Regions from separate parts of the Homo sapiens genome. Here region 2 is linked to region 1. The links come from fine-mapping of genetic effects on gene expression. Tissue or cell type: whole blood. Region 1 holds a variant in brackets; the other region holds the start of a gene. All regions are shown on one strand. Distances are between the middles of the regions.

Region 1 (11,083 bases):
ACTTGAAGGGGTGGGGCATGGGTGATTCTGGTCCCAGGGACTAGAGCCTGGGGGCTCCCACCTTTTCCTCTGGTTCTGCACTGACCTGCCCTCTGGTTCTGCCCTGACCTGCCCTTGCCAAGCCCACTGGGCCGGCGAACAGTTGTTTCCATTTTCCCTGCAGCCTCTGTTCTGGGAACCAGGCCAGCATTCATAGCCTTTCCCCTCCTTTTCTTTTTGTAATAGAAACTGCTCAGGGCTGCCAGGAGCCAGCAGTGTGCTCCGCGGCTCACCGTTTGGCTGGACTGGAGGTGAAGCTTCTTGGTGGCTCCTTCCCAGCCTTCTATGGAAGCTGGAATCCACTCTCCCGAGGCCATTTCTCCTCCCGGGGTTCCCTCTCTGCAGCCTCAACCCCCCAGTGCCCTTTGTCCCCTAAAGCGAGCAGTTTGTTTTCAGTCCAATACCTCCAGGGGATGGGGGGGGGCGCCTGGAGGAGTGTCCCAGGAGAGGGTCCCACCAGCCACGCTGCCCTGAACCCCCTTAAAATGGGGGTGGTGTGACAGTAACTTAGAGACCACTTAGATGACCTCAGGCATTCTGAGAAATCTAAAGGCTGATCTGAAGCCAGAGGAGGAAAGTTCATTCACCTTTGTCCCAGCCCCTCCCCGACTCCAGGACTCTAGCGTTGGCTGTTTTTATTTGCAGTCCAGCGTCCGGAATGAGCGGAGTTCCTTTTGGGAAGGATGTGCGGCAGGTGTGCTCACTCTGCCCGGGAGCGTCTCCCCGCCGAGGAGCGCCCATGCTGACTGCGAATTGTTCCACACTGCACGCAGAGCATTCCTTTAGCAGCCTCTTGTTTTCTTAAGTGACTCTCTACAACTGTTTCCTTGGAGGCGTTTGTCTAAATAAGCTCTTCTTCTAGGCAAACTGGTGGGGGGAATTGATTCACTATCCTCAGAAATTAGGAAGCATGAAATTATACTGGCTCTGCTACCGGGGAACAAAGAGCAGGGGCGTGGTGTGCAGCGGCCAGTGCAGGGCCCAGGACAGGGTGTGGGGGCTAATCACAGCCCGCGGGGTGGGTGGGAAGTGCCCCAGCCCCAAGCTGGGACTGTGCTTCTCGGCACCTTCCACACCTTATGTAGCTCCCCTTTGGTCTCCACGTTTCTGGAAGTCACAGCTGCACCCTGGGTCACCTTAAGCTTTTTCACAGTGGACCACATGTGATTCTGAGTTACATTACTTTAACCTCAAGAGCTTGACTATTTTCTATATCGTGAAGTTATAAAAGGATAGTGGAATCTCACAGTCATTTGAGAGACAATACTTTTTTTCGACCATATGAATGTTTTGTACCATGGAGACAGTGTGAGCCAGGCTAGGAGGTCTGGTCAGAGACACTTATTTTATTTTTAGTTTTAGTTTTTGTAGAAATGAGAGTCTCACTATGTTGCCTAGGCAAGTCTTGAACTTCTGGCCTCAAGCAATCCTCCTACCTCGGCCTCCCAAAGTTTTAAGATTACAGGTGTGAGCCACTGCACCTGGCCAGACACACTTAGTTTAAGGAGCAATGTGCTATAGGCAAGAAAGCCAAATATATCTCAGGTCAAATCTGGCTCTGCTGTGTGATTTGGGGCAAATTAATGAACCTCTCTGCACTTCTGTTTCCTCATCCATCAAAGGGGAATAATAAAACCTATCTCACTGTGCTGTAAAGATTAAATAATGAAATGGATGCAAACTACCTCACATAGTACCTGGCCCACAGCAAGTTCTTAACTAAAGAGAACTCTCTTTCTCTTCTAAAACCTAGGATGCCTGAGGAGTCTAGGATTAGGAATCTCTGAATATTTACTAGTAGCATTGCTGGGGTGGATCAGAAATATTTGGGAAAAAAGTTAGGAGGAAAATGGCACCTATGAGGATGTCATAGTCATCAGCAATGAAGGATTTGAGAAGTTCTTTAGCAGAAATCAGGAGATTACCTCTTTCATTCAAACCCTAGCGAAGGATGCTTTACACTATGACTATGATTACAGAGAAATGAGAATATTTTCCATTTGTGATATAGAAAAACCATTCCCTTAACTGGGGGCCACATGCTGTAGGGAGTTCAATACCATTCTCCAAGTACATGAGGCCCAACCTACATCCTGGTTCTGTCTCTTTCCCCAGCCCTGGTCCTTTGCAAGAGGTAAAAGTCTTTATAAGTGCATGAGAATAACTGCTCAAAATCACTTTTAGGTTTCCCCCAAATTCTCCTGATCTCTAATAAAAACAAATAATTGAGGGGATGTGACATTACCCTTGGTCACTAGTGATTTAGAGCTTCTGTCCATTGCTCCTTGGAGCTGCTCATCCTCAAAGGTACCCCAGGCAGAGGCCAGCAGCGAGTTCAAGGCCTTGTCAAGAAGGTTTTCCTTTAATAATACGCATCCACATACACAAAACACAGGCCTTCCTGGAATTGCCAAAAGACAGCAGCTGCAAAAAGGACTTGGACAAGAAAGTTTATTGCAGCTTTATTCCAAACAACCCAGATGCCCATCAACAGGAGAATGGTAAACAAATTATGGCATATTTATACGATGGAATATTACACAGTTATAAAAACAGCAAATTTTTGAAATGTGAACCTCACAGTCATGATGTTGAAAGAAACAAGACACAGATAAAAAAGTACATATTGTGTAATTCTATTTATAATGGAGTTCAAGAATCAGCAATGTTAATCCTAGATGACGGAAGTCAGATAGCAGTTACCTTTGGGTAAGCATGCTTACTTTGGACTTGGAAGGGGCACAGATAGCTTTCTGGGGCTGTGGAAATGTTGCGAATCTTGGTTTGGGTAGTTACATGGGTGTATGCGTAGATAAACATTCACAGTGATGTGCGCTCAAAATTGTGCATTTTATGGGACATAAATTAAAAACGTAAAAATATTGAAAAACAGAAATTGGAGAAGTGTTAAAGGGTCAGGTTGAATGAGGACTGTCTAACCTGGAGCTGGCATCAGAAACAACTACCAGAAATCCCTGTAACCTGCTTCTCCTTTGGGGTCTGTGAACCGCAGGACTAAGACACTCCCACATTCTGACCCTGGCACCAGCAACAGACTACTTGCCATCGGATTGATGTCGAGAAATGATCACAGGATAACAGCTCTTCTCACGGTTCAGCAGATAATAGTAAGTCAAACTTTTGCCCCAGTTGAACATCCTATCTCTAAGTATACCCCCCATTTCCTCTGAACCCCCCTAAACCATTTGCCAGTCACCCAAATCACCATCTGTGACCACTACTCCCCTGCATTCTACATCCAATCAATCACCAAGCCCTGTCAATTCTCCTTACTTGATAGCTTTAACACTCCTCCACTCCTCTCCAGCCCAGTGTCTTAAATCCACACTAACATCCTCCTTCTAGATGATGCGCCCACCTCCCACCTGCTCTCCCAGACTCCTGTGGTCTTGCCCTCCCTTCAATGAACTTGCCAGCTGCTGAAGGGATCATGGCCCTAAAATGCAAATCATAGAATACTTAAAAGAATTTCTAAACCTCCCAGGATTCACCCAGGCTCCTGGCATGGCTTACAGGCTGTAACCCATGATGCAAACCAGGCTTGCCTGTCCTGACAGCCTCATCTCTCTATGCGGGGCACTGTCCTAAGTGGTAGAATTAATTACAGCAGTGAATGAAACAAAGTTCCTTCGCCGATGGGATTTGCCATTTTGTAGGGAAGTACAGACAACAAACAAACAAATATATGAGATGATGTGGTATACATGTGAAAGACAGAAAAGCAAGATAGGAGACAGGGAGTGATGTGGGATTCTGTGTCAGCTGGGATGGTTAAGGAAGGCCATTCTAATGAGATCACATTTGGGCAGAAGCCTGAAGGAAGAGGCTGCTTGCCACCCCACACAGCAAGGGTGTGCCACAGTCATCTGCTCTCCTGGCAGTTCCGAGAGCAGGCTGGGCTCCCCTAGGCCTCTGGGCCTGTGCACGCACACTTCCTCTCCCTGCAGCATTCCATACCATCAAGAACTGAGATCTTATCTCATGTGCAGGTAATAATCACACATGCCAAAATTTCACGGATGTTGGTAGAAGACATGAGGCTCCTGGGTCAGAGAAGAAGGACAGTTTCTTCACTTCCAGTAATAGTAACAGCCAGAGTGGCAGCATTTTTGCACTGGTTTTCTGACCCCAGGTGACCCAACACCACCATTCAGTGAGATAGATGAAGTCTAAATAAGAGAGTAAACCATTGTGGAAGGCATTGAAACCATAAAAAGTAAGATGAGAACAGTTGAGAAAAAGACACTTAGAATTGACTGCAACATTTACAGAGTTTTGGTGTCAGCAGAGGCCTTAGTATTAGGTGATGGAAGCCCGCCACTGTAAGGTTCCCGCCCTTGAGAATCTGCTCAGGACCAGCTGGTGAGATGGACGTGTCAGCAGATAAATTGCAAGGCTGTGCTCTCAAGCTCTAGTGCACAAAGGACTATGGGAGCCCATAGAATGGGTAGGAGGAGGCCATTCAAGCTAAATCTTGACAGATGGGCAGGAATTCATCAGAAAGACTTAAATATTGGTCTTGAAAATAGCACTGCATACAAGAAAAAAACACATGCATTTATGAGGCAAGAGTCCCTGAAGTTTCACATTTACACAAAATGATGTGTGTCTTTTGGTGGGGGAAGCGGATGTGAAATTCCCTACAGATAAGCCCAGGCTAGCTGACCAGATGAGGTGAGATTTCTTTCAGGTACTGCCTAAGCAATCAATGGCCAGAGAGGGCTGCGGGGCTGGGCTGCTGGGCTGCGAGGCTGCTGGGTGCTGAGGGAGCAGGGGGAATGTTCCCTGGGGTGTGGCTGGCCATGGTGCTCGCCATCCTGGAACAAATCAACTGAGGCGCAAATCTGCAGCACCTTTGCCACAGCCAGAATCCACGGTGGTTCCTCCGTGAGCACATGCCCTGAATTCCACCTGGCCTGTGCGTCATGCTCAGTTGGCAGGATATCAGAACCAATGCTGCCAACACCAGACTCTCCACGTGCGGAGCAATTTATGAAACCCTGGGGCCAGCAATGGCCACCTTTGCATCCTGGAGTTAGGATGACCCTGACACATCCCAGCCCCAGCATACACCACCGCGCTGCCCTGAGGCTGGGCTCTACCTTTTGAGAGCTACTGAGCTCTGCAGAGATGTGGGTGAAGGGAGCCACAGACATATCAGTCTGGCAGGGGCTTAGAGTCACTGCTCTAACTGCCTATCTGGCAGGTGAAGAAACAGAGGCCAGGGCAGGCAAGCCCTGACCAGGGCAGTGTACCTGCTTGGTAGACGAGTTCTCTCCTTCCCCCAGTGCAGTGCCTACTGTCTCTCTTTAGCTGTGCCTAGCTGGGTTGGGGTCTTTTCTCTGGGCTTCCCTAACCACTCCTGCTGACCCCTATCTGAGCTCCAACTTCTCCCTGGAAACCACGCATTAACCTATTACCTCCTCGCTACACTGTGAGTTCCTGAGAGGGGCTTGCGTCTTTCTCATCTGGCAGTTGGCCAGAGCCCCATAAGTACACTCAAGTTGAATGAGCGATTAAATGGGTGACTGCAACAAGCCTGGGCAGGAATGGGTAGTGCTCTTTTTGGTCATGGCTTCTTAAACACAAACAAGGTGGGCTTCATTGGGCCTTATTTCAGAAAAAAATATTCGTCTTATTATAAAAAGTAATGTTTGGCCAGGCACAGTGGCTCAAACCTATAGTTTCAGCACTTTGGGCGGCCAAGGTGGGAAGATTGCTTGGGCCCAGGAGTTTGAGACCAGCCTGGGCAACATAGTGAGACCCTGTCTCTTAAAAAAAAAAAAAAGTTAGCTATGGTGTTGCATGCTTGTGGTCCCAGCTACTTGGGAGGCTAAAGCAGGAGGATCACTGGAGCCCAGGAGTTGGAGGCTGTAGTGAACCATGACTGTGCCACTGCACTCCAGCCTGGGCGACAGAGAAGACCCTGTCTCAAAAAACAAGTAAGTAAAGCAAAATAAAAAGTAATGTTTGACTTGAACTTACAAGTTAAAGAACTGATGAGTCGATTGTGCTGTTTTGATTCTGTGGCTCCTGTCATCCGTCTCACTCTACCTCCCAGCGACACAGTCCTGTCCTCCTAGATACATGTACCCTAGCTTGAGAAGTGGGACTGCGGGAAGCTGGGCCAACCAGGTGGCTTATTCACTGTCTGCTGGGGCAGGAGGCAGGGCAGGGGCAGGAGGGAGGCAACCCCAGCCTGTGCCCGGCTTCCCCGAGGCGTGTGCCTTGTGCGGCTGCTGAAGGAGTGACTCCTGAGGAAACCAGCTTTTCCAGGGAGGCAAGGGATGGGAGAAGAGGGTGGAGAAGGAAGTGGTCACACCACTTGCCTTCTGCCAATACTGTCCCTTTCTTACGCGTTAACCTTCCACTCTGAGCTATGACACTTTCAGTACTAGTGTGGTAAGTTCTACAGGAAACAGGAAACATGGTTTAACAGACATCCCTTTAAGCTTTAAGTGTAGCCCAGGCCCTGTTCTAGCTAGAATGAAGTTTTGCATAATGAATAGATACCAGATTCCCCTGAAGGGCTCTTGCCCCAGAGACTCTCAGTGGCCCAC[G/A]TTCACAGGTACTTGCAGGCATGCATATATGCTTCTCACCTCTTAGGAAATGGCCTTTGCAGGCATGAAAAAACAAATACCTCAAGTTCCCTTCCTGAGCCTCTTAGGCAACATGAAAAAACTACATACCAATCCCGAGAATGGAAGCTGGTTTGGAGTTTCACCTCACAAAAAGCTGGCCCCACCATGCTCACCCAAATGGCAGATTTATGAAGGTTCTGTTTGACAAGAGCAAAGGATCCACTTTGAGCAGCTCTGGGCCTATGGAAGGCAAGGTGTTCATGTTTAAGCACAAAGGTAAACAGAGCATAGCAGCAGGTTACAGAGATCATTTATTTTCCCGCTGATGACAGACATGAGCTCTGGCCCAGGGCCCAAACTTCTTATCCTTGAAAAACACATTTTACAGATTGCCGGCAGAGACAGCCAACCCAGATTAAGCTGCCAGACCTAACTATTTTAGATCTTCCTCCTACTCCTCTGGAAAAAAAAAATATAAGATAACGATTTTTGTCCCTGAAAAACAATGAGAGGAACTAAAGGAAAGCCCGGGCTCTATTCTTAGGGGTCTGCTGCCCTCCAGAAAGCCCAGCGTACAACTTCAGGCAGGCCCATGACACGCCAAGTGTTTGCATTTTGGAAGAATCCTAATAGAATTCCTTCAAGTGGCAGATTCCTGAGGACATTTCAGGATTTATTTACAGATCGTTAACTTACTTGTCACAGAAACCGAAGGGCAGGGAAATTTTGAGCTGACATTTTGGAATGCCACCCTCAAAGGGTGATCAACCAGAAATAAAGATAAAGTGCCTTTGAAATGATAAATATGAAGTAATGGGGACAAGGATTTGTTTCATAGGCACCGTTTCAGAAAAACATCTCTAATGTAAAGTGAAGCCCAGAAGTATATTTTACCTGCTCTTCACTGACTATGTAATTAATGTTTCAGTGACTGACAATTCTCACTTATCACCATAAATTTTTTTCTAGAAATTGCCACATAAATTGGAGCATCATAAAACAGGTTTCTGCAAACTGGTTTGTATGTTTTTTATCATAATAATGAGGTTATAGCCGGGTGCATTGGCTCACGCCTGTAATCCCAGCACTTTGGGAAGCTGAGGTGGGTGGATCACCTGATGTTAGGAGTTTGAGACCAGCCTGGCTAACATGGTGAAACCCTGTCTCTACTGAAAATACAAAAATTAGCCAGGCGTGGTGGCTTGCGCCTGTAATCCCAGCTACTTAGGAGGCGGAGGCAGGAGAATTGCTTGAATCCAGGAGGCAGAGGTTGCAGTGAGCTAAGATCTTGCCATTGCACTCCAGCCTAGGCAACAAGACTGAAACTTCCTCTCAAAACAAACAAACAAACAAACAAACAAATAATGAAGTTATAAATTTGGACTTACATTCTGGGTTAGGGACTTGACATCAAGCACATCAGATATGATTTGATAATTTCTGTCAGGAATGCAATAATAAAATAGCTCTAAACTCCGTGGTCATTATAAATAGTAAACTCATGCTCCAAGCACTATAAAATGGGCATGGGCGCACTGTCTGCATCCCACTGGTTTCCTGTTACCCCACCTGCTGCCTCTTGCTTGACCATGGGCTGTTGATGGAAACTGAGGACTAAACTTATAAGGCCCACCAAGCTTATCTTGCCTTGCTTGCTTTTAGCCGCTTGCTTCTAGCTGATTTTAAAATCCATATAGCTAAATAATATATATCTGCCAGTAGCTTCCTTATAGTTAACAACTCTAAGGCATTGCTCACCATGGTAACAGTTGTTTTTCAGGAAGTGGGGGTCAGTCCTTGTCCACTTCAAACCAGCTGAGACCACCAGCCCTTCAACTGGACCTGTGTGAATGTCCAGTTGATATGGACAGGAGACAGGGAAATACTGGGTAGAAGAGGGTGGTTCCCTGGCAAAGGCCCCACCCTAAAGCCTGGAAACCTGCAGCCTGGAATGAGAACAAGCATTCCTGTTTTCATGCCCAAATGTTGCCTTTTGGTCTGGAACGCCCCCTATCCTGTAGTCATATAAACCCTAAGCCCCAGGCTCTACAAGCAGATGAGCAGACAAACAGAAGAGCAGAAGAGCTGCAGAACGGCGTGGCAGAGAAGGAGAGTAAAGAAGGAGCATCTGAACATCAAGAGGAGTTTGGCTGGGGCAGTCAGGGAGGAGAGATAGGCCATTGGACAGCCAAACTCCAGGGAAAGGTCATTTTCCCACTCCATCCGCTTTCCGGCTCCCTGCTGACAGCCACCTCCACCACTCAATAAAACCCCCACATTCACCATCCTTCAAGTCTGTGTGTGATCTGATTCTCCCTGGACACTGGACAAGAATCCAGGTACCAAGACGGCACTGAGCTGTTTAACATTTAAGCCATCTGCGGATGGCAGAGCTAAAAGAGGACTGTAGCTCATCCACTGGGGCTTCAGGAGTTGCAGGCTCCTACCCCTAGACACCACTGGTGGGCCGGTGCCCAAAAGCGCTCACCCTGATTCCTGCACCTGCCTGCGTGCTCCCTCTCCCGTAAAGGGTTTGAGCACACACAGTGGCTGAACAGACGAGCCACACCCTTGTTGCATGTCCTGCAAGGAGGTTCAGGGAAACCTCCCGTTTCACAGTGGGTGACCTTTTGATGTTGGAGGGCCAAAAACTCCACCCTCAGATCACGCTAATGATCTCATTTTGTTAACGTGCATCCTGTTAAGAGCCATGAAGCTTGACTACACTTGTGCAGGTCACTCATTGCCTTGTTTTCCCTTACTCCAGTCACCTTTCCCCATGCCTCGGACCGCCTTGCTACTCTACCCCATAAATATCCATAAAGCCTCTTCTACGGGGAGGCAGACCTGAGAGGCATTCTCTAGCTGCTCACTTAGCTGCCTCAAGAATAAAATCTTTTCTCCACTGCCAAACTCATCATCTCAGTGATTGGTTTACTGTGTAATGGGCAGAATGTGCCTGGCCACTAACATGCTCACATCTACTTTCTCAATACACTAACTCTGAGGTAAGGAAGGCATATCTTAGTTCCCGAGTTCAACAGATGGGGAAACTGAAGTTCAGGAATACTTCAGCTTTGGAAGCACGGCAGAGACTTAGCAAACAGGTTTTCTTTCAGTGCTTAAGTCCTCACTTTCCAATCTCTGTAGCCCTGCTCGTGACACAGTGGACATTGTGCATTTGCTTGTCTCACATCTAAGGGAACACTGATTTACTTATTTATTTTGAGACAGGATCTCAGTCTGTCACCCAGGCTGGAGTGCAGTGGCACAATCATGGCTTGCTGCAGCATCAACCTCCTGGACTCAAGTGATCCTCCTGCCTCAGTCTCCCGAGTAGCTGGGACTATAGGTACATGCCACTATACCTGGCTAATTTTTTTTTTTTTTTTTTTTTTTGAGACGGAGTCTCACTCTGTCGCCCAGGCTGGAGTGCAGTGGCACCACGTTGGCTCACTGCAACCTCCGTCTCCTGGGTTCAAGCAATTCTCCGGCCTCAGCCTCCTGAGTAGCTGGGATTGCAGGTGCCCACCACCACACCTGGCTAATTTTTATATTTTTAGTAGAGATGGGGTTTCACCATGTTGGCCAGGTTGGTCTTGAACTCCTGACCTCAGGTGAGCCGCCCACCTCGGCCTCCAAAGTGCTAGGATTACAGGCGTTAGCCACCACGCCCGGACTACCTGCTTAATTTTTTGATTTTTTTTTTGTAAAGACAGTGTCTTACTTTGTTGCCCAGGCTCAAGTAATGCCCACTCCTTGGCCTCCAGAAGTGATGGGATTATAGGCGTGAGCCACCGTACCCGGCCTGGGATGCTACTCTAAATGCACATTCATTCTAGCTCCCAAACTACTTTTTTTTCGCTATTTCTAAATCAAAATGCTTTTCGACATTGCTATGTGGAAACTGTGGGTTTTATAAAGTTATAAAGAATAGTTTAATAAGAAATTACACCCAAGAAAAGTATAAAACACATTACAATATAAATGTGACCTGGCACTTAGAATAAACATTTGCTTTGCAATACTCTCATTTGTTTTTTTCCTAGAATTTAAATGAGACTTTTTTGGAACCAGATTTTTAAAATAAACAAATGAACAACTGTCCCTAAGAAACCTTAGCTGACACCTTTTTTGTTTCTGTCTTAAAGTTCCCAGCCAAGGTTTTCAAAATCTTTCCCCTGACCTCAGAACTGCTGGAAGTGGTGCAGTGCTGACTGACAGTTTGTTGACAAGAGAGGCAACACTTCACACTTCACTGGAAAGCATAAAAGCGTGCTCCAGGTCATTAACTGAGACTTTTAAGAGGAACTGCTTGCTGCATTATGATAGTGGGATTCAGGAACATTTCTTTGCAATTCGTACAGTTTTGTTGTTTTTTCACAAAATGGAATTCAAATGCACAGAATGCAATTAATAAAAATTCTTGATTCATGGCACAC
Region 2 (11,083 bases), 42 kb after region 1:
CACTGCACTCCAGCCTGGGTGACAAGAGTGAGACCCTGTCTCAAAAAATAAATAAATAAAATTTAAAAAGAGTTTGGAGCCTTAACTTCTATTGCTAGACCATGCTAATTCTGAGGATTCTACTGGAGAATACTAGTATTCACCTGGTTTATGAGTGTTGTTTACACGTTTCTAGTTGCAGGATCTTCATTGCTATTTAATTTCATCATTAATCTGAAATCATCTATTTAAATTTCTTTCTGTCCAAGGTTTAGTTTATCAAAGTGATAACTGAAATCTTCAAAAATAGATATAAAAGTATATTATGTATGAGTGTTTACATGCAAAAGAAATGTATGCTGGTTTTAAGTCAAATGATCATTCAGCACTTAAAATGAAATATTATAGCACGTTTGCCTTTACAATCAAAAGATTAGATGCCTAGAGCCAAGGTATGATTTTTATGAGTCAAAGTCCAAAATGTTTACTAAAGTTATTCATTTCAAAAAAGTATTGTTTTTGATGGTGGTATTTCAGTTTATTCCCACTGGGAAATAAAGTCAGTTACAAAGTGCTTCAGTTTCACTCTATCTCCCTTTGCTTCTAATGTACAATAGTAGAAAATTCTAAATAGCCTGCCAAGATAATTCCATAATCCTTAAAAATTTGGATTATGGCCGGCTGCAGTGGCTCACGCCTGTAATCCCAGCACTTTGGGAGGCCAGGGCGGACGGACTACCTGAGGTCAGGAGTTTGAGACCAGCCTGGTGAAACCAGGTGAAACCCCGTCTCTACTAAAAATACAAAAATTAGCCGGGCAAGGTGGCACACGCCTGTAGTCCCAGCTACTTGGGAGGGTGAGGCAGGAGAATCACTTGAACCTGGGAGATGGAGGTTGCAGTGAGCTGAGATCATGCCACTGCACTCCAGCCTGGGTGACAGAGCAAGACTCCGTCTCCAAAAAAAAAAAAAAAAAAAATTGGATTATGAGAAGTAAACTCTAGAGTTCCTACTGAAATAAACAGCTAGAAGTTTTTTGCTAACTCCTAATCATTGTATGTTGAAAACACATTTATGTCACCTTAAATCTCTGAGGAACCTAAATATATTTATTTAAAAATCATTTATCAGCCAGGCGCGGTGGCTCATGCCTATAATCCCAGCACTTGGGGAGGCCGAGGCGGGTGGATCACTTGAGGTCAGGAGTTAGAGTCCAGGCTGGCCAGCATGGTGAAACCCCGTCTCTACTAAAAATACAAAACTTAGCTGGATGTAGTGGCGAGCGCCTGTAATCCCAGCTACTCGGGAGACTAAGGCAGAAGAATCTCTGGAACCTGGAAGGCGAGGTTGCATTGAGCCGAGACCACACTACTGCACTCCAGCCTGGACAAGACAGAGACTATATTTTTAAAAATTTAAAATATAATTTATATTTTTAAAAATAGAAATCATTTTCTAATTGCTCTACTATTTTCATGTCTTCTGGAGTGAATCAATATCCTGATTGTTGATCTGGCTGGCTGTCTTGAAGTAAGCCTGTCACTCTGTGGAAAACTGACAGCATTTGTTGCCACTGACATAATTTGAATTTTTAAGTAAAAATTAGTTTTCTTCATGTGTTTTAGGATATTTGATATAGGCTCAACTTGATTGTCCCCTCCTGCTTCTATCCCTGTCTAGCGGCTTTATGGTCATGGTCATTTCTGCTTGGCCTTCTGAGTCCCCTGGTCCACAAACACACCTTATGATGGGACCCCCAAACCACCAACATAAGTGAACATACACGTTATCACAAATCCAGACCTTAAGCCTGCAAGTAGATTGGTCCAGGTCTTGAGAGGCTATATATATCTCTTTATTTCTACACTTTTAAGTACTCAGCTCTATTTAAGTCGTAAATCCAGATAGTTGGTTGAGCTTTCTTCAGATTTATTAATAATTACCAAATTTGGGAATAGTCTTTCTCCCTGCCGTATTTTCTGTTCTGTTTCTGGTCCCCAGTGGTGTTTACCTCATCAATTCTCAATGCGTGGTCTGTGGACCCCTGAAAGCTCCCAAGGCTCTTTCAGGAGTTCATGAAGGTAAAACATTTTCCTAACGATACTAAGACATTATTTGCCTTTTACACTGTGCTGACATTTGTACTGATGAAGCAGATAAACTGGTGGGGAAAACTGCCGGGTTTAATAAGAATCAGGAAGAATACCAAACTCTATTTCACTGCCACATACTTGCAGTTAAAAACAAAAAACCAAAAACAAAAAAGAACAAAAAACCCCCACCAGTTTTACTTAAGAATGTCTGATGAAGCAGTAAAAATTTTATTAAACCTTGACCCTTGAGTTCTCTTGTCAGTAGGATAAAATGGGAAATGCAAATAAAGACTTTTGTTGCATACCAAATACAATGGTTGTCTCCAGAGAATGCATTTAAGCAACTGAGTTGTAAGCTGAACTAGTGGCTTTTTTTTGTAACCACCAAATTTCTCCCATCTTCACAGTCAAACAGCGGTTTATGCTGTCTTCACTTTCTTACCACACATTCATTCAGCCTACTAAAATCTGGCTTTTTGATTTTACTGAAACTGCTCTTGCTAACTAGTCCTTATTTTATCAACTAGTCCTTATTTTACTTTACCATTCTATTGCACCTTACGTTTTGGGGTACTCTTTTCTTGAAATTCTAATAGTGATGCCAAGGCATTATTTCCCTCAATTTTCCTAACCATTCCTTCTCTCCTTTGCAGGCAGATATCTGCTATATCTGCAGCCCAAACTCATATTTTAAATTCTAGATCCATATATATAGCTGTATCCTATAGGATACCTCCAAAAGATCTAAAGAGACCACAAACTCAATACATCTGAAACCTTTGACTTCCCATAAAATCTGCTCCTCCTCCTCTTAATGACATTACCTTGAATATGCTAATGGCAACGAAGTCAGAAAGACAGCAGTCATCTTAGGGTCCTCCCTCTTTGTTACCTTCCATATATATTCTAATTTGTAACCCCCTTTTGTAAACCCCTTCAGTCCTACTGAAACTAATTTTAGGCCCTCATAATTCCTCAATCAACAGATTTCCCTTCCTCCAATTCTAGCCTTTCCAATTCATCCTTTTAGAAATTTTCATTTTGTCGGCAGTTAGAGGGATGGATTGGAAAGGTCAGAATTGGAGGGAGAAATCGATTGATTGAGGAATTATGAGTGCCTAAAATTAGTCGTATCATTGACTTGTTTAAAGCCTTTAAGTTCCCATCCCCTATGGCAGGGATTCTGGGCTTGAATGGAATAAACACTCCAATATTCCATACCCTGCACATATGCATTTTCCTAAGGAAAGGGCCCAGATTCCCAAAGATTAACCCCAGAAGCAGCCGACCTCTGAAATCTTTTCAGAACAATCTCAAACCGTACCCTCCAACCTAGCATATATTCCAACTAACCCCCAATTACTTTTAAGTTCTCATACAGGGTTATGCTGCTTCAACATTTCCTTCCACTGAACATAAGATTCCTTCTGCCTAGAAAGCCACTCCCCAAGTGAACCAGTACCCATCCTTCAAGTGTTCTCTCAGCTATGAAGTCCTCCCTAGTTCCTCCAAGCAAATGCTCTCTCCCTCATTTCTTCTACTATTCTTTGCATACACCTTTATCACAGTTTATTACATGGCATTTTTGTATTTTGTATGTCCTTCATCCTTAATAGATCATGAGAAAAAGACCATGTTTTATTCATGTGGTATGCTAGTGTTTAGTACAGATCTGGTATAAAATAGTCAAATATTTACCACACCATTAACAATGTGTAGTCTTTTCATAAAAGGCTCTCCTGTGTAATAACAAGCTGTTCAAACTGAAAGTATTTCTGTAAGATGCTTAAAAAGGGATATTTTTCAAAATACATCAAAACACGAATGAACTTATCACTAGTGCTTGAAATATTAAGGAAAAAGCTAAGTCTACAGTTGTTTAAAAACTTGACAAAAAATATAAGCACAGATATAAACAACTGCCTCTTCATTTAAGTGGAAATCTAAATTATTAGTTATACATTTAATTATAATCCTCAATGAGACTAAATCTAGATATAAGACTTTCTTAACGTTCATATTTGATTAGCCTCGTTAATGAGATTTTCCTCTTGCAATTTTTAAATGCTTTAATCATGGTTTTCTTTATACTTAAATCTGGACTTAGGTTTAAAAAAATCAAGTATATTTATTTATGCGTCTTTCAAGTAGTCATTTGTGTGAAGTCAGCACTACTTCAGTTTTCAGAAAACACACAAAATGTTCAGTGAATGGTGAAATTGCCTAACCCCTTGCGCGGTTACAATGGTCCAAGTAGGAAATCACATTAGGTACCCATCAGAGAAACTGAGTTTCTACGCTGCTTTTAAAAACATCCTCGGTAGGTTATTTAGAACAGGAAATTGAAAGTTCTTATTCTTCTTCACCACTCTATCACTAAGGAAAAGGGCGAAAAAGCTATGGATGTAAATGCTGCTGTCTATAAACACAACTTGCCTGCAGAAATATGTAGTGGGCCGCGAAGTTTGAAGGAAGCCCGCAGTGCCTGGTATATTCACCAACTCCTCCAAGTAACTGATCATTGCCAAGGTCGAATTAATAAGCGTTCTTTGATGTTAATGATTGTGAGTGTTCTCAGGAAAGGACTAAAAGCTGACTTTCTAAACAGGATGTTGTTTGGAAATACCCCAAACAAACTCGATGTCCATTCCTAACGTGTTATTAAGTGAACCGATCTGACTCGATGCGTTTTGTTAAAAGGACTTTCTTTAGTTTCCCTGGCCCACAGTTTATTTTTTTACTATTTTTAACTCGGAGCCCATCTTAAAAACAAATTAAGAACGGAATGCTCGCCAAATCACGTCTACAAGACAAAATCGGCTTCCCAGGGAGCTAGACCTCGAGTGGGCACCGGCAGGGACGTAACCGCTGAGCCTCTCCGCAGAGCGCGACGCCGGCCGCCGGGTTTCGGTTAGACCGCAGCAGGAAGTTTTCCCTTCCTCTGCGGGAGGCAGTGGAGCCAAGGGGAAATTTGAACTCCCACTCCACGGGGACACCCAGAGGGGAGCTCCGGTGTGGGAGGGTGGCTCCCCTGGGAGCCAGGCGGCCGAGGAGCTCGTGATTCGACGCCCGCCGCGGCGTCTCCGCCCCGCGCGGCCCAGGCCGCGGCCTCCCTGCCCTCCCTGCCGTCCACTCCCAGTCCCGGGGCGGCGGCCTCAAAGCCCGCGCGGCAGGGCTGCGTCCCGGCTCGCAGGTCCCCGTCTCCCCGCCTAGGGCGCCGCGCCGAGCGGCAGGCGGGCCTGGCCGGCGCGGGCTGCACTCACCCACTCGAGGACCTTGATGAAGCCGAGTGGCTCCTTGAGCGGGTTGAGGTTGATCTGGAAGCCGGACATCCTCTGAGGAAAGGAGGGAGAGAGAGTCAGGACGACGGGGCGGAGGAGGGGACCGACGAGACCAGAGCAGCCCGGTGGCGAGGAAGGGCAGGCGGGGCTGGCGCGCTGGCCGGGCTCGGAGGCGGGCCCGGGCGGCCGTGGGGCGGGGCGGGGCGGAGCGGCGGCGGTTGAGCTGCTGGCTGAGACTCTGGGGCGGAAACGGAGTGGGGCGGCTGGGGAGGCGAGGGGCGGGCCGGGGCGGAGACCGGGAGGCTTCTCCTCAGGCCGCACCTGGCCGAGTCGACTGATCCGCTGGCGAACCAAGTAGATGTTGGGCGCCATACTGCGTGCGCCGCGCCCCCTTCCCTGCGGTTCAGCCCCTGGCACTCGGTCTTCCCCTGCGCACGCGTGTACGCGTGCGCTCGTTGGGCCCGCGCCGCGCTTCCGGACCCGCGCGACTGCGAAGAGCCCTGACCCGGGGGCGCCCACGCCCGCTCCTGCGCAGCTTGGGGGCGCTGGCCTCAGAGACACCCTCACTTGACCCCGAGCTCACCACAGCTGAGCTCACTACACCGAAGCTGACCTCTCCTTCCCTTAACAGATCTCAACTTTTTTATGAATTTATAATGTATTGGCACAGATGAAGTTGTGTTTCAAGGCATGTGTTAGGGGCCTTTGATTAAAATTGCAAAACAACAGACTTCTGGCTACCGTGCTGTGGGGTGCCTCGAAAGTGTGAATCACCAAATATTCGTATGGAAATTAGGTTTATTTTCAAAGTTACCATCGCAGCCATGGTTGAAAAATGAAGTAAGTTTATACCTAAAAGGAAAGGCGTGGCCGGACAGGCCCTCGGTGACCTACACTTTCACCTCTTCTACGCTGTCGGTCGACAGTCCTCTTTTTAAGGCATCGTTGGTATCTTTCTTCAAGAAGCTGACCCCTTTAAGATTCGGCTTAGGTGATACTTTCCTCTTGGCACGCAGTTACGGGAGCCCCAAGGTAGTGTGATCTCCTTCCTGGCTTCTTCAGTACCTGGAAAGTTCCTGGACAGCTGGAATGTGGTCATATTCGTGTATATGAAAAACCAGCTTCCAAGGACTTACCTGAATTTCAAGCACGAATATGATTTGCAGGCTACTTGCCACTGAGGTTATTCCGTCAGGGTTGACAACTGTTATTGAACGTCCTTGTAGTAAGCGAACCCTTTCTCTTTCGAGACCTATCTCCTTGTTTGCTGTCCAGAGAGTGCAAAAAATACATTTCATTTTCTATGCAGACAGAGACAATCTTTATGTTTATCTTGGCTCCCGTTCCTCAGTCCCCAGCACAGTCAGTGCTCAATGAGCACCTAATGGCATATCTCATTTTGAAATAACATTAAGAACTGGGCGCGGTGGCTCACGCCTGTAATCCCAGCACTTTGGGAGGCCGAGGCCGGCGGATCGTGAGGTCAGGAGTTCAAGACCAACCTGGCTAACATGGTGAAACCCCGTCTCTTATAAAGATACCAAAAAAATTAGCCTGACGTGGTAGCACGCGCCTGTCATCCCAGCTACTCAGGAGGCTGAGGCAGGAGAATCGCTTGAACCGGGAGGTGGGGGGGTTGCAGCGGGTTCCTAATGGATGGTTGCAGATTTCTCCCACTAAGCAACAAAGCATCATAGATACCCCTTAGGGCTAGGTGAGTGGAAGGTGACCATACACTGCTACCTGGTGCGTCTGAGACCACGATGAGCGGTGCTCCAGGTCTTCCAGCTTCCTCTCTCTCCTTTTTTTTCTACTTTGTTTCTGTATCTTCCTCTCAGTACTTCTCTTTTTGTTCTCTTTAGCCCGTTTTTCTAAGCTTTTACTCTCATTCTGTTGCGGTCTTCTGGGTAGGCACCTGGGGACGGAGTAGTGAATAGTAAGACTATTTAGCTTGAGCTTCATATTCACGAATATTCAAATTAGACTCTTAATGTTATTATTATTATTTTTTTTTTTTGAGACAGAGTCTTGCCCCGTCACCCAGGCTGGAGTGCAATGGCGTGATCTCAGCTCACTGCAACCTCTGCACCCCCGGGTTCAAGCGATTCTCCTGCCTCAGCCTCCCGAGTAGCTGGGATTACAGGCACGTACCACCACGTCCGGCTAATTTTTTTGTATCTTTATTAGAGACGGGGTTTCACCATGTTGGCCAGGTTGGTCTTGAACTCCTGACCTCATGATCCGCCACCTCGGCCTCCCAAAGTGCTGGGATTACAGGCGTGAGCCACCGCGCCCAGCTCTTAATGTTATTTCAAAATGAGATATGCCTTGACAGATTAGAGATATGTTCACATGCAGCTTTATTAATTAAAGATCTAAAACATACCATGACTTAGTAAACCAATATTGGCATCTCTTCTTCTTTTTGTTTATTGAAGGCCTTAGAAATTGGAATTGGCCAGGCCCTTTCTCAACTTCCGCGCTAAACTTTCTGTTGCTTCTGTCTGCCTCTCCTCACTTTCTCTCCTGCTTCTTGTTCAAGCCCACCAGTGGAAGGCATGGTGGTTACATTTCCTCAGGAAACCTTCAGTGCTAGAGTAACTCCTTGAACTTTAAGAAGGTTCCTTCCTTGGCCCTGTGGCACTCGATTTTAAAGATGGAGACCACCGAGGGTGAGCAGAACCACATCTGGTCACTTATCAGAACTCATTCGCAGAATCTCTCTTGAGCAGAAGGAAACAGAAGTGAGCCGCCACTGCTCACCTTCAGTCACAGCCTAGCACTGCTTCTGCCAGTCAGCTGAGCTCAGGGGCCTACCTTCCTGAGAAGGAACTGGCCGTGACTGGCAGAGCCAGTGAGATCTGATTGGGCAACAAGATAATTGTGATTTTTTTTTAAATCCTCCTCAAACAAAAGTGTTTAAACAATAGCATCTCATTGAAGGCACAACTGTTCAAAATCAGGGAAGAATGTTCAGATGACTGTATCACATTGACTACAACACTGGTCATTTTCTGATTTGTTCCTCAAATCTGAGGAAAGAGCCAGATGCTCTGGGAACAACATGTTCCAGGTCTACTCTACCAGGGCTATTTGGAAAAGAATCCCTGTAATATAAAATGGTTCTGTCTATCTGAGGTAGTATTATTGAGCTTTATCTGTGGTGGTATAATTATGGCTAAGTTACCTACATAATTTGTCATTGTTTTACTTTCTCTCTGTGGCTTTGAACACATGTGCCAGACTGTGACACTTGGGATTTAGGAATGCTCAGAAGGCCAGAAAGGAAACTATATTTAGTCAACCATATATTAACTATATTAGACATCTCATTGGCTAACTATAATATTTTTTGTTTTTCTCAATGGGAATACAAAGTTTTGGTCATCTTATTGGCAAGATGAGACTTTGTAACTCATTCCCAACCAATATTTATCTCCTTTTCTGAAAAGATATTGTTTAATACCAAATTCAAAACCTGACTTTTGCTTATAAACACAAATAGGTGTTTTGTTTTCGCTAATGAATTCAATAATCATTTTAGAAAAATTTTAAGATAACCAAATTTATTTAAATTGTACAATAGATGGATTTAATAGGCTCAGTAAATTAATCTCAAAGTAATCTGAGGCCTCTTAAACTTTTCATTTTAAAACATATTTTGATTTATGAATTGCAAAGTACAAAGAGTTCTGTATACACTTCACCCAGTTTCCCCTAATGTTAACATCTTCTATAACCATCATACATTTGTCAAAACAAAAAAAATTAGTATTGATGTGTTACTACTGACTAAACTAAAGAATTTTTCAAACTTCATCAGTTGTCCACTAATGTCTTTTTTACTCCCCCAGGATCCAATCCAGGAAACCACATTTAATGTAATGAGTGTCACAGGTGATCAGAAACTATCTGGGGCCAGTGGTACAGGCAGTAAGAAGAATTTACCAAGACAGTCGTAGGTAAAGAAAGGCAGATTTATTTGAGAACGTAGGAAAATGTATTGCAAGGGTGCAACAGGCAGGTCAGCGAAAGAGGAGCTGACTGCAAAGAGTCAAAAGCTTGCTAGGGATTTTATAGGATGGTGCTTGTGCTCTGCGCTTGAAGAAGACTTTGTGCAGTATTGGTAATGCCGAGGTTGCAGTGAGCTAACTTGCATTTTTCTGTCAGCCAAGAGTCAGGTGGTAGCTCGGCACAGGAAGATTGTGAGTGATTTACACATGAGGGCTATGTGTCCTGGACCATGAAGAAAGGCAGACTTATAGCTTATCTATCTGCTTTCTCGTTTTGCTTTCCCCTGGTCCTGCCAGCCTGACTCCTTCTCCTGAATTAGGACTCTACCTTTCTTCACACCCTGACAGCAACAATGACTAATCTTTGGCATGTGGTTAAAGGTCTCATCTTCCAACTGCTTCTTGCTGACCAGGGGTGTATAGTTGGCCCTACCTAGGATTGTTAGTCGGTCAGGAGGTTATGTACACCTAAATCCCTGAGTTGGGACTTAAATTGGTCAGGGTTGCTATGAGACTATGGGAGAACAGCATTTGTAGCCTAAAATTTTGTTCTGCTGCATTCAAAGGAAAGTTATGTAGCTGATACCTTTGCTGTAGTACTGTTTTGGTTTGAAATTGTTGTATCCTAGAAAACACAAAATCAGATGTAGAATTAACAATACAGTATGCAAATAAACAAACTAATATGAGCTTTATTATAGGCAGAAGAAGTTGAGCAACCCATGGCCAAATTTAACTGGAGAAGCTTTGAAATAGTTGTGCTGAAAAGGAATCTTGAGGAACTCTGTTTTGAAGGCCCTTTAATATTTTTATGTTGTCTGTTATCTTTTCTAAACTTTCTTCTACCTGACCTGAGTTACTGATGTAAAAGCAACAAGTTTTATTTAACAGCATGCAGGTGCCTCCTGCTTCAGCAGGAAGCACCTCCTAAGTGAGTTGGTTCTGCAAAACATACCCTGCCAGCGAGTTCAGGGCCTGCCATTGGCCTTCAATGGCCGTGATTGTAGCTTCCCAAGATTGCTGGACTAGGATGGTGAGATTATGAATACTGCACTTAAGCATGGGTATATCTGCAAACCAAAAGATTGCACTGGCTACAGAATGTCCTAGGTCATTTTTCTCTATGACAGGATTATTATTGGCGAGGATGCTAAATGATGGGAGACTAAGTACTGCTTCTGATGTCCTTTGGAGGGACCAACATAAGAAGGATTTTAAATTTGGAGCTTGGCTAGAGGTTACGAAGTCTGAGGAGTTATATATGTGCACTCCAGATATTGCTGCAACTGTAGTGTAAGTGCCTCTTCACTTAATAGACAAGGCTAGAAATATGTTAGATCTGTATAAAAAGAAGAACCCAGTTCCTTTTAATGAAACTCCTGAAGAGGAACCTCACAACCAGGCATAGGTGTGATTAGTTTAGATTCCCGTATGGTTTGCATAAATAGAGGGATCCCATGGTCCCCTGGGATTAAATGTGGATGGGCAGTGACCCAAAAAGTAGTTATCCACGCATAAGGGGGTAAAAGTTTGACTTGTAGTGTTATGTGAATGTGGGGCCTGACAGATATGATTTTTGAATATTAATGGGATAAGAGAAAATTGAGGAAAAGATGTAGATGTATTAGTGAAGTTGAGAAGTCGTCCAGTTTTGACTGCTATTTCTATATGTTCCATCCTGGCTGCTGAACTATTTATAGGCATAAAGGAATTGTTA

Evidence for each region. PIP is the estimated chance that this variant, and not a neighbour inherited with it, causes the effect.
Region 2: it holds the start of SYPL1, and the variant in region 1 is fine-mapped to the expression of SYPL1 in whole blood (INTERVAL, PIP above 0.99).

What each region holds. Positions count from the first base shown.
Region 1 is chr7:106,065,254-106,076,336 of GRCh38, forward strand. No RefSeq gene overlaps it. Among named protein-coding and RNA genes, the nearest start is that of SYPL1, 42 kb to the right of the region's middle. RefSeq lists an enhancer at 6,830-7,124. The variant G/A (reference allele first, on the strand shown) is at 6,621.
Region 2 is chr7:106,106,805-106,117,887 of GRCh38, forward strand. It overlaps SYPL1 (synaptophysin like 1), which reads right to left and starts at 5,508. Exons shown (of 5, transcript NM_182715.4): 1 at 5,336-5,508. The coding sequence starts at 5,404. RefSeq lists an enhancer at 4,738-5,570 and silencers at 5,026-5,275, 5,286-5,775, 5,856-5,915.